Regions from separate parts of the Homo sapiens genome. Here all the other regions are linked to region 2. The links come from fine-mapping of genetic effects on gene expression. A gene starts in region 2. Each other region holds a variant in brackets. All regions are shown on one strand. Distances are from middle to middle. Region 1 overlaps ADGRA2 (adhesion G protein-coupled receptor A2). Region 2 holds the start of RAB11FIP1 (RAB11 family interacting protein 1). Region 3 overlaps BAG4 (BAG cochaperone 4).

What was found.
Region 1: its variant is fine-mapped to the expression of RAB11FIP1 in whole blood (GTEx, PIP above 0.99).
Region 3: its variant is fine-mapped to the expression of RAB11FIP1 in whole blood (TOPMed, PIP 0.93).

The regions. Positions count from the first base shown.
Region 1 is chr8:37,844,775-37,848,979 of GRCh38, reverse strand. ADGRA2 (adhesion G protein-coupled receptor A2) reads right to left here. Exons shown (of 19, transcript NM_032777.10): 19 at 4,084-4,205. BRF2 (BRF2 general transcription factor IIIB subunit) reads left to right here. Exons shown (of 4, transcript NM_018310.4): 2 at 325-384; 3 at 1,805-2,126; 4 at 3,767-4,205. Among named protein-coding and RNA genes, the nearest start is that of BRF2, 3.0 kb to the left of the region's middle. The variant A/G (reference allele first, on the strand shown) is at 2,199.
Region 2 is chr8:37,897,287-37,901,491 of GRCh38, reverse strand. RAB11FIP1 (RAB11 family interacting protein 1) reads left to right here and starts at 1,995. Exons shown (of 6, transcript NM_001002814.3): 1 at 1,995-2,421. The coding sequence starts at 2,051. RefSeq lists silencers at 1,731-1,960, 2,181-2,610 and an enhancer at 3,740-4,205.
Region 3 is chr8:38,212,278-38,216,482 of GRCh38, reverse strand. It overlaps BAG4 (BAG cochaperone 4), which reads right to left. Exons shown (of 5, transcript NM_004874.4): 5 at 3,182-4,205. Among named protein-coding and RNA genes, the nearest start is that of DDHD2, 17 kb to the left of the region's middle. The variant C/T (reference allele first, on the strand shown) is at 2,119.

The DNA of each region.
Region 1 (4,205 bases), 53 kb after region 2:
CTGTGCTCCAGCCTGGACTATAGAGGGAAACTCCTTAAACAAACAACAACAAAATCTGCTGCTAGGAAAATTGCCTGTATGGAATGTACTGGAAGGATGACTGGAAATTTGGAACACTTGGAGCTGCTTTAATGCAGTCCTAACCTTTCCCAGTCTCTGTGTATTCGGAACCTCTTGTAGACATAGAAAACCAGATGGGGCCTTTAACTGTGCAGCAGCAGATGCTCAATGATTTGAATTTTGCGTCCTGGTTTTGTGTGGTGGGAGGGCAGGGGTCTGATGAATAAAGGCTAAGCACACTATTTGTTGTTTATTATCTTACAGAGGTAACATATTCCCGAAGCACAGGGGAAAACGAACAAGTTAGTCGCAGCCAGCAACGAGGTGAGAATTGACCTTTTACAACACAGTGGCTTTAAAGAAAACTATCCTAGGCCAGGTGCTGTGGCTCACGCCTGTAATCCCAGCACTTTGGGAGGCCTAGGCAGGTGGATCACCTGAGGTCAGGAGTTCAAGACCAGCCTGGCAAACATAGCGAAACCCCGTCTCTACTAAAAATACAAAAATTAGCTGGGCATGGTGGCATGTACCTGTAGTCCCAGCTACTTGGCAGGCTGAGGCAGGAGAATCGCTTGAACCTGGGAGGTGGAGGTTGCAGTGAGCTGAGATCGCGCCACTGCACTCCAGCCTGGGTGACAGAGTGAGACTCCATCTCAAAAAAATAATAATGAGCCGGGCGCGGTGGCTCATGCCTGTAATCCCAGCACTTTGGGAGGCCGAGGCGGGCGGATCACGAGGTCAGGAGATTGAGACCATCCTGGTTAACACGATGAAACCCCATCTCTACTAAAAATACAAAAAAATTAGCCGGGCGTGATGGTGGGTGCCTGTAGTCCCAGCTACTCGGGAGGCTGAGGCAGGAGAATGGCGTGAACCCGGGAGGCGGAGCTTGCAGTGAGCCGAGATCGCACCACAGCACTCCGGCCTGGGTGACAGAGCGAGACTCTGTCTCAAAAAATAATAATAATAATAATAATAATAATAATAATAAAAGAAAACTATCCTGGTGGCCTAGCCCAGCTTTTCACTTTTCCTATTTTCAGCATTGCTGGTGTGAGGTAGAGTAGAAGAGAATGGTAATTAGGAATTTAAAATGGGGATGGTGGCTCACACCTGTAATCCCAGACTTTGGGAGGCCGAGACGGGCAGATCGCTTGAGGTCAGGAGTTCAAGACCAGCCTGGCCAACATGGTGAAACCCCGTCTCTACTAAAAATACAAAAATTAGCTGGGCCTGGTGGTGCACACCTGTAATCCCAGCTACTCGGGAGGCTGAGGCAGGAGAATCACTTAAACCTGGAAGGAGGAGGTTTCAGTGAGCCAAGATGGCGCCACTGCACTTCAGCCTGGGCAACTGAGCCAGACTCTGTCTCAGAAAATAATAAAATAAATAAAACAAATAGGGATGGTTCTGAGAGAGGCAGCAATTCAGTATAAGGTTTGGGTTTGATCAGACGTATGTTTGAGGTAGCCTCTAAGAGCCTGGATAAAACTTGGGCTTGGCCCTGAATCAAACCAGCCTGCAAAAACTAGTGGGCTGAAATGTGACTTCTTTACACAAATGTTTTTGTGTCTTTAGAATGACTATACCAAGTGTCACTCCTGTCTATGCAGAAAGGTACATAATTTGTGCATCTGATATCTGAGGCAAGTTTAGCAGATCTAAGTAAGTCCTAGCAGAATTTTCTAGGAGTTGCACGATAGCTCCTTTGACCCCTCTAACTCTTGCCGTGGGTTTTTCCTAGGTCTCCGGCGAGTGAGAGACCTTTGTCGAGTTCTGCAGTTGCCACCAACATTTGAGGATACCGCGGTTGCCTACTACCAACAGGCATATCGGCACTCTGGCATCCGAGCGGCCAGGCTGCAAAAGAAGGAGGTGTTGGTTGGGTGCTGCGTCTTAATCACCTGCCGACAGCATAACTGGCCCCTAACAATGGGGGCCATCTGCACGCTGTTGTATGCAGATTTGGATGTGTTTTCTAGCACTTACATGCAGATAGTGAAGCTCCTGGGACTGGATGTGCCATCTCTGTGCTTGGCAGAACTGGTGAAGACCTATTGCAGCAGGTACGTCCCTGGTGGGAGACAGTAGGATGGGATGGGATGGGTCCTTAGACCTGAATCCTTTGACCTTTGGCC[A/G]TCTCTTTTTTTTTTTCTTGGAGTCTTGCTCTTATCACCCAGGCTGGAGTGCAGTGGCACGATCTCAGCTCACTGCAACCTCCGCCTCCGGGGTTCAAGCTATTCTCCTGCCTCAGCCTCCAGAGTAGCTGGGATTACAGGTGCCTGCCACCATGCCTGGCTAATTTTTTTGTTTTTCTTTGCATTTTTAGTAGAGACAGGGTTTCACCATGTTGACCAGGCTGATCTCGAACTCCTGACCTCAGGTGATCCGCCTGCCTCGGCCTCCCAAAGTTCTGGGATTACAGGCGTGAGCCACCGCACCCGGCCTTGGCCATCTCTTTTTTACCAAAGCCCATGTAAAAGGATGTGGGAGAAAGATCTTTAGTTTAAACTTGTACTCATAAGGTTAATATTGTTTTACATTTTTAGAATGCTATAATTTTCTTTTTTTTGAGACCGAGTCTTGCTGTGTTGCCCAGGCTGGAGAGCAGTGGCATGATTTCGGCTCACGGCAACCTCCACCTCCCGGGTTCAAGTGATTTTTGTGCCTCAGCCTCCCAAGTAGCTGGGACTACAGGTGCATGCCACCATGCCTGGCTAATTTTTTGTTTTTAGTAGAGATGGGGTTTCGCCATGTTGCCCAGGCTGGTCTTGAACTCCTGGACTCAAGCGTTCTACCCACCTCAGCCTCCCAAAGTGCTGGGATTACAAGTGTGAGCCACTGCACCCCGCCAAAGAATGCTATAATTTTCAAACCCCTTTGCCTTCACAGCAACCTAATGACTTGGGGAAAATAGGTCTGAGTCTTGGCACAGGGCTGCTGAGTTGCACCACTCATGTTTTGTGCTCTGTGCATGGCAGTTCCTAGAGTTGTGCTGTGCCATGGGCTTTGTGGCTGAATGCCCAGCTCTGTCTCAGCAGGATCATCTGCAGAGGAAGCTGAAAGTATATTAGTTAATGACATAACTGGGCTTAGAAGCTAAGTCTTTTCTAGTTTTTTTAAAGACAGGGTCTCTTTCACCCAGCCTGGAGTGCAGTGGCACCATCATAGCTCACTGCAGCCTGGAACTCATGGGCTCAAGCGATCTGCCCACCTGATCCTCCCAAAATGCAGGTATTACAGGCGTGAGCACTGCGCCTGGCTCTTTTCTCATTTGAAGTAGCTATGTTCTTTTCTTTTTTCTGATAAATAACGTTGAAAGTAGAGGCTGTTGGTGTCAAATAGCCTTGTATTTGAAGCTTGGTTACTGCCTGGCTGGATGACTATGGGAAAGTTTTTTAACTATACATGCACATAAGATGGTGCACGTGCACGTAGATTAAATGAGAACGTTGTAAAGCACTCAGAATAATGGTGATTGGGAGGCGCCCAATAAATGTTCGTGCTCTCCTCCATCCCTCCACCTTCCCCTAACAAGCGGAAGACGCCCTGTTTTCTCTCACTACCTTTATTAACTTGCTGCCCAGTGAGCTTGAGTATTCCTGAGGGCAGAATAGCTTCCCCATCTTGAGTGGGCTGTCTTTCCTCACTGTGGGAGAGCAGCCCCTATATCATTAAGATCCAACCCTCATTTTGGTTATTTCAGCTTCAAACTGTTCCAAGCTTCACCTTCTGTGCCAGCCAAATACGTGGAAGACAAAGAGAAGATGCTGTCTCGAACAATGCAGTTGGTGGAGCTGGCAAATGAGACGTGGCTGGTGACCGGGAGGCATCCCTTGCCCGTCATCACTGCTGCGACTTTCCTGGCTTGGCAGTCGCTGCAGCCTGCAGATCGGCTTTCATGTTCCCTTGCCCGATTTTGTAAATTGGCAAATGTGGACCTGCCCTACCCGGCGTCCTCCCGCCTGCAGGAGCTGCTGGCTGTGCTGCTGCGGATGGCTGAGCAGCTGGCCTGGTTACGAGTTCTGAGACTTGACAAACGGTCTGTGGTGAAGCACATCGGTGACCTTCTCCAGCACCGCCAGTCACTGGTCCGCTCTGCCTTTCGGGATGGGACAGCAGAAGTGGAGACCCGAGAGAAGGAG
Region 2 (4,205 bases):
AAAAAAAGAAAAAAAATATTTCCAACATACTAAACAGGCCTTTCTCACACTGCAGCTGCCCTCAGTTGCAAACCTGAGGCATACCTCTGTCTTCTAATTTCCTACGTGGTAAAAGGAAACACTTGGTCCTCATGGTTGGCCAACTTAACCTGCAAACTCTTGAGTTCAGTAGCACTTCCCGGGTACCTACTGTGCACCCAGGTTTGTGCTGGAGGCTGTGAAGGAGACAAGTTGAATAAGTCACTACCTGGTCCCTGCCCTCAGCAGGGCATAGGAAGTCAAACCTTGGAGAAATATGAGTGAACCCTTGCAGTGGGAGGTTGGCAAAGACAGTCAAGGGTACAACGTAAAGGCCTGGAAGTAAAAAGTGTCTGGGCTACAGGTTTGTTTGTTCGGGAGATAGAGGAGAATGAGGTAGGGTGGGGTCAAAATGGAGTACCTTGAAATCTCTGTTCAGTCCGAAGGTAACGCGGTTGCTGGTGAGGCAGCCAGCAGGTTAGTGAAGCAATGTGCAGTGTGAACCAGAGGGAGGAGAGCCTGGAGATTGGAGGGACACGAGTAGCCATCCAAGATTGGGGTTCTGTGGATCTGGAAGAATCAAGAGATGCACTGAACAGCTGTTTGGGAGTCAGGACACTGGGATCCCAGTCCCAGCTCTGCAGAGGGACCTTGGACATGTCACTCCTCTCTTCTGAGTCTTTCCTTAACTGTAAAACTTTAAAACCTTCCAAGTGACCTTTCCAATCTGATGACTCGTTAAACAGTTGAGCCTTTGAACTAGGACCTGTGAAATGAAGGGAAGCAGCCGATCTATTAGGCATTTGGAACAAGAAAGGGACTGCCTGGGAGCCCAGGGATAGAGGCAGGGAGAGACTAAAGAGGGCCTGGCAAGGGAGAAATGGGGAACTGCGGGCTGGGGGCCTGCCACTGTCCCGATGTTTGATTTGGCAATCCCATTTTCAGTTCCTCCTTTCTTCCCTTTTTCTAACTCAGCCTCGCCTTATCTGGTGGGGGGAGGGCAAAATAGGACACTCCCACATTGAACTCATGCTCCCCAGGATACCTTCCCCTTTTCCGGCCCTCACAAGGTCCTCACCTTCCTCTGCAGCTGCCTTCCTCCAGAGCAAGGCTTTCCAGCGGGAGAAGTAGAAAGCACAGTGAATTGGGTGGGCATCTTCCTTAGCACCCTCATAGTTACCAACTTTATTTTTTTGAGACAGGGTCTTGCTCTGTTGCCCAGGCTGGGAGTGCAGTGGCACGATCTCGGCTCACTGCACCTCGACCTCCTGGGCTCCAGAGATCCTCCAGACTCAGCCTCCCAAGTAGCGGGGACCACAGGCGCTTGCCACCACTCCTATCTAATTATTTTTAATTTTTTTTGTAGAGACGGGGATCTGGCTATGTTGCCCAGGCTGGTCTCGAACTCCTGGGCTCAGGAGATCCTCCTGTCTCAGCCTCCCAACGTGCTGGTCATGGTTATTTACTGAGAACTCACCATGAGCCAGGCACTGGGCCAAGAACTGTAATGCATTATTATTATTATTTTTTACAGCAATCCTAGGAGGTGATTGTCAGGTGAAGAAATTGAGACTTGATGTTAGGTAATCCGCGCAAGGCCACGACTGGCGATGTGACCCTGGAAATGAGGTCTGACTTCCAAGTCAGTGCTTCGGCCAGCTCCTTCCCGCCGTGCGACCTTTGGCAGCTGGGGACCCCATCCGTCACCTACCACCTCTCAGATTAGATTCTCGATGCGCCCGCCCCTGCGCACGTGATCCCCTGCCTGCCTGGCCGCGCCAGCCCCGCCTCCGGCGCCCGGGTGCCCGGAGCTGCCCGCGCTGCTGAGGCCGGCGGGGCGGGGCGGGGCGGGGCGGGGCGCGGCGCAGCAGGTGGAGCAGGCGGCTCGGGCAGGGGCGTGGCCTTGGCCATGAGGGGCGTGGCCTGGCGGGGGTGTGGCCGGAAGCCTTAAAGTGGCCTGGTCGCCGGGGCGGGCCGTGGAGGCCGCCAGTCGCGGCGATCTTCTCCTCGCTTCTGGAGTGTTATCGTCACCATGTCCCTAATGGTCTCGGCTGGCCGGGGCCTGGGGGCCGTGTGGTCCCCAACCCACGTGCAGGTGACGGTGCTGCAGGCGCGGGGCCTGCGGGCCAAGGGCCCCGGGGGCACGAGCGACGCGTACGCGGTGATCCAGGTGGGCAAGGAGAAGTACGCCACCTCCGTGTCGGAGCGCAGCCTGGGCGCGCCCGTGTGGCGCGAGGAGGCCACCTTCGAGCTGCCATCGCTGCTGTCCTCCGGACCCGCGGCCGCCGCCACCCTGCAGCTCACCGTGCTGCACCGCGCGCTGCTCGGCCTCGACAAGTTCCTGGGCCGCGCCGAGGTGGACCTGCGGGATCTGCACCGCGACCAGGGCCGCAGGAAGACGCAGTGAGTGCGGGCGGGGAGGGGAGGGCCCGGCCTGGGGGCGCGGACCCCTCCGGCAGGGCGGTCTGGGCGCTGGACCCTTCGAGAGTAAGCCGGGCAGCAGCGGGGAAGGCCTTTCGGGACGGAGCCCTCGGCCGGTGCTGGTGTTCTCACCTGGCTTCCCCTTCTGCGGCTGTCCCGCCCAGCTCTGCCAGCTTTGGGTCTTCTTGGAAGAAGGGGCCGTATCTGGGGCGCTTTTTTTTTTTTTTTTTTTAGACAGAGTCTCTGTCGCCCGGGCTGGAGTGCAATGGCAATGGCACGATCTCAGCTCACTGCAAACTTCGCCTCGCAGGTTCACGTGATTCTCCTGCCTCAGCCTCCCGAGTAGCTGGGATTACAGGCGCGCACCACCACGCCCGGCTAATTTTTTTTTTTTTTTTTTTGAGACTGAGTCTCACTCTGTCGCCAGGCTGCAGTGCAGTGGCACGATCTCGGCTCACTGCAACCTCCGCCTCCTGGGTTCAAGCGATTCTCCTGCCTGAGCCTCCCGAGTAGCTGGGACTACAGGCGTGCGCCACCACGCCCGGCTAATTTTTGTATTTTTAGTAGAGACGGGGTTTCATCAGATTGGCCAGGATGGTCTTGAACTATTGACCTCGTGATCCACCCACCTCGGCCTCCCAAAGTGCTGGGATTACACGCGTGAGCCACCGCGCCCGGCCCGCCCGGCTAATTTTTGTATTTTTAGTAGAGACGGGGTTTCACCGTGTTGGCCAGGCTGGTCTCGAATTTCTGACTTCAGGTGATCCGCCCACCTCGGCCTCCCAAAGTATTGGGATTACAGGCGTGAGCCACCGCGCCGGGCCTGGGGCGCTTTTGAATCTGCAGGACGCCCCTCAGCGTCTGGCACACAGTAAGCACTAAGTGAATTTTAGATGAATTCCAACTATACGTGGGCAGGTGCCTTCTTCTTACTAGGGTGGTAGCCCGTGTCTGATACTCGCCTTCGCTTGGGTGGAAGGCCTCCTGGGTATTTCACTGAATAGAAGAACACTTCGAGCCGAGAATGACTGGGCCAGGGCGCAGGGCAGAGGAACAGGAGGCATGAAACCAGCTGACACCCCCACCCTAAAGGCTAACCCCGGGCGCAACGCCTTTACAATGCGGGGTGGGTGGAGGTTGGGGGAGGGGAATGGCGTTTGCCGGCTGTCACATGACTTGCTAACCCCTTCCCCTACCTCATACTTGCCTAGGGGGTTGGTGAAGAGAATTTGCCCCTACAGAAAGAATGTTACAACAGTGTGGTGTGTGCCCTGGGCCCCATGTTAGTAAAGATTTCTCCAGGTTGGAAGGAGCCCGGGTGGGCCCTTGACGGAGCAGAACTGGGCATTGTTTCCTTTTGGAGTTGGTAGAGTTCTTCTCTCTGGTCCTAATCCTGGTGGATGTCTGCTCGCCTGTAGCTCCCAAAGATTGTGTCAGGTTATTTCACTTCTGCAGTAAAAACTGGGCAAAAACCATTCACTCCATGATATTACCGAATTATTTGTTTCACAGGTGTTCGGAAAGGGCAGTGCTTCACCCAAAGGAACGTTCGATTATGTTCATCTAGTATGCCAAAGCTAGCCTCGATTAGCTTAGCTGGTTACTTTGTTAGATCTTAAATACACAGGCCAGTCAGTTAGCACCGAAAGCCTATAGTCTAGGAATCACACTGATTTGCTTTGTGTGTTTTAGATATACATAGCCTTTTAACTTTCCCTTCTGTGGGAGACAGGAAAAGCCAGAGGGTTTGTCCTCTGGAGGCTCCC
Region 3 (4,205 bases), 310 kb before region 2:
TAGCTCATGCCTGTAATCTTAGCACTTTGGGAAGGCAAAGTGGGTGTATCGCTTGAGCTCAGGATTTCAAAACCAGCCTGGGCAACTTAGCAAAACCCTGTCTCTACAAAAAAATACAAAAAAAATTAGCCAGTTGTGACGGTGTGCACCTGTAACCCAGCTACTCAGGAGGCTGAGGCAGGATGATCAACTGAACCAGGAAGGCAGAGGTTGCAGTGAGCAGAGATTGTGCCCCTGAACTCCAGCCTGGATGACAGAATGAGACCCTGTCACACAGAAAATAAAAATAAAAAGTGATAAAGTTGTATAAATCTCCTACAAAGTACCACAAAAAGGCAAAACATTAAAAAAAAAACAAACAAACAGAAAACATAAGAAAATTAAAGAACCAGTCTATGAGGCCTACAGTCAAAACAGTAGTAATTCTAGAAAGTATTAACAGAGAAGACTGGGATGGAGGAAAGAGGGAAATTAACAAACAAACAAAAAATCAAAAAATTTCACAGGACTTAATGGTATGAGTTGCCAGAATGAAATGGCCCCAGCAAAACGGATAAAAATGGACCTAAACCAAAGCTATTCTTAGGAAATTTCAGAACAAATGGGGCCCCCCCAAAAATTCTATAAGCTTCTAGAGAAAAATATCAGGTTTTATACAAAGGATCTTGAATCAGAATGGCATATGCTTCTCAACAGCAATTCTGGAATCTACAAGACAATATAACAATGCCTTCAAAATCCTTAAGATAATCATTTCCTAGAATTCTATACCCAGCCAAACTATCAATCCATTGGCTAGGTGGAACAGACATTTTCAAATATGCAAGATCAAAATAAATTATTTCCCATGCACCCTTTTCCAGGAAGCACCTGGAGAATATGCTCCACCAAATGACGGAATAAACAAAAAGAGAAAGACATAGGATACAAAAAACAGAAAACCAAAAGAAGAGACAAAAAGAATCCACAGCATGACCCTATGTACTATGCCAGGAACATACTAGTTTTCCAGTCAGAAGGGTTCAGGATAGACTCTTCAGAAGTTTGAAATTGATAAAATATTTATATATATATATTATATATATTTATATTATATATATTTTAAATATATATTATATATTAAATATATATTACATATTTAATGTATATTTAATATTTTAAATATATATTTCTAATATATATTTATATGTTTTATATATATATATTTATTTATTTTTTTTTTTTTGAGACGGAATCTCACTGTTGCCCAGGCTGGAGTGCAGTGGCACGATCTCAGCTCACTGCAACCTCCACCTCCTGAGTTCAAGTGATTCTCCTGCCTCAGTCTCCCAAGTGGCTGGAATTACAGGCATGCGCCACCACACCCAGCTAATTTTTGTATTTTTAGTAGAGATGGGGTTTTGCCATATTGGCCAGGAGGATCTCCTGACCTCAAGTTGTCTACCCACCTCAGCCTCTCAAAGCAGTAGGATGACAGGTGTGAGCCACCGCGCCCAGCCAATATTAATAATTTTTAATCATTTTGTATTTATCTTAATTTTTTAATTTTTTTTTTAAATAGAGACGAGGTCTCACTATGTTGCCCAGGCTGGTCTTGAACTCCTGGGCTCAAGCAATCCTCCCGCCTTGGCCTTCCAAAGTGCTGGGCATACAGGCATTAGCCACCATGCCGGGCCTTGTCTGAGCATCTTGAGAGACTTAGACGACTGAGAGAAGGTCAAATCAGTCTTAGGTAGATAAGCAAACAAAACAAATATGACAGATGATTAATTCCAGGGAAAACAAGTTGTTAGGAAAGGAAAAGTAATCAGGTTACTATATAGCTAAACTCTCCTTAGCATTTACATAGTCAGGATAACGTACAATGAAACTACCAAATAAGTATATTGAGGACAGGTGTGGTAGCTCACATCTGTAATCCCAGCACTTGGGAAGCCAAGGAGGGAGGATCACTTGAGCCCAGCCAGGCATTTGAGACTAGCTTGGGTAACATGGCAAGACTCCATCTCTACAAAAAATTACAAAATTAGCCAGGTGCCATAATGCATGCCTCCCAGCTACTGGGGAGGCTGAGGCGGGAGGATCCCTTGGGCCCAGGAATTTCAGGCAGTAGTGAGC[C/T]GAGATCATGCCACTGCACTCCATCCTGGGTGACAGAGCAAGACTCTGTCTCAAAAAAAAAAAAAGTAAAGAAAACATATATATATATATATAGAGAGAGAGAGAGAGAGAGAGAGAGAGAGAGAGAGAGAAAGAGAGAGAGAGAGAAACCTGGAAACCTGGCCAGGCACAGTGGCTCACACCTGTAATTCCAGCACTTTGGGAGGCCAAGGTGGGCAGATCACCTGAGGTCAGGAGTTCGAGACCAGCCTGGCCAACATGGTGAAACCCCGCCTCTACTAAAAATACAAAAATTAGCTGGACGTGGTGGTACATGTCTGCAATCCCAGCTACTCAGGAGGCTGAGGCAGGAGAATGGCTTGAACCTGGGAAGTGGAGGTTGCAGTGAGCCGAGATCGCGCCATTGCACTCCCACCTGGGCGACAGAGCAAGACTCCGTCTCAAAAAAAACATAAAAACTCAGTTGAAGCTGGTTGAGGTGGTCCATGCCTGTAGTCGCAGCTACCCAGGAGGCTGAGGCAGAAGGATCACTTGAGCCCAGGAATTTAAGACCAGCATAGCAAGACTCTTGTCTCTAAAAACAAAATTTTTTGATTAACAAAAGAAAAACTCAGTTGAAAGTGGTTGCCTTTAGAGAAGGAGAAATGGGGGTGGGATCAGGAGAATGCTGCCTTTCATAGAACTGACTTTTTAAACTCGTAACTTCTACGAATTGAGGTAAACTCCTTACTTTTTTAAAAAAATAAGTAAAAAAAAGTAAAGTTGTAAAAGAAAAGCTCCATCAACTATCCATCCCCCAAAAACTTTTTTATGCCTATTTAATCTACATTCTTCAAAATTTTTTTAACCTGCCTAGCTTTAATGGTATTATTTACATTAACCAACTGAAAAACTGTTTTCAGAACCCCATTTTTAAAAGCATTTAAAAGAATTCTGCACCAACATGTGGAGACACATATAATCCAACCCCTGTATACTTCATTAGGGCTTATTTGTTTAAACAGTTTCATTGGCATTCATACTTGGAACAACAGAGGGTTATTATAAAAAAAAAAAAACATAGTTGTGTTTATCATGCCAGGACTGGGTAACTTTATTCAAGACTTTGACAAAATGATCCCCAAAGTAATATAAATGTAGACACTTTAAAAAGTCCAGATGTGAAATTTCAAGAAAACTTTGAATTCAGTCCAAAGTCAGTATTAAGTCAAAAGTTGAACCAATTCTACAAATCATAAATACTATTTTCCTTCTTAAGTTCATATATTTTCTGAGATAGATTACCAACTTAGTTTTCTTTGATATTGGTATTTGGAATAATTTTAACATGATTTAACATCTTTAAGTTCTAAATCTATACTTATCCTGAATATCTTATTATAGTTAAAAATATAAATCCAGAACTGACAACTCTTCCTTACAGAAGAATTCCAATAATAAATGTAGAAGGATTGAGAGAAATAGAAAATCACCATTAGAACACCACAGTAGTAACTGCCACAAGCAAGATCTGCCAATGGATAGTAAAATGAGCAAAAGTTTAAGCAGAAACGGGACATTTGCATAGTCTCCGGGTATCTCCAGCAAATATTCAATAATTACAAGGAAAACACAGTAAGTTTACAGTAGCGAATCCTAGCAGACACCACCTTAGCATAGTGATCAAGGTTAACAACACCAGAAATACATTACAACATCAGGTATCCCCTGTTATGATACACTGTCACAGACTGGAAGACAGGACGTAGGCATGATAGCTAAATGCAAGGCTGGGTCTTGGAACAGTAAAAGGACATTAGTGAAAAGACTAAAATCTCTACTTTTTAAACTTTCTACTTTAGTTAGTATTATATCAAGGTTAATTTCTTAATTTTGACAAATGTTCTATTGTTACGTAAGATGTTAACATAAGGGCAAGGTGGGTGCAGAGTATACAAGAACTCTACTACTTTTACAACTCTTCTGTAAGTCTAAAATTATCTCAAAAGCTTAAAAAATAACTGTTAGAAAACAAACATGTATGTGCATAACATGTGTACATATATATAAATCAAGACTTCATGGAAATTGGCATCTTGGGCACTCAG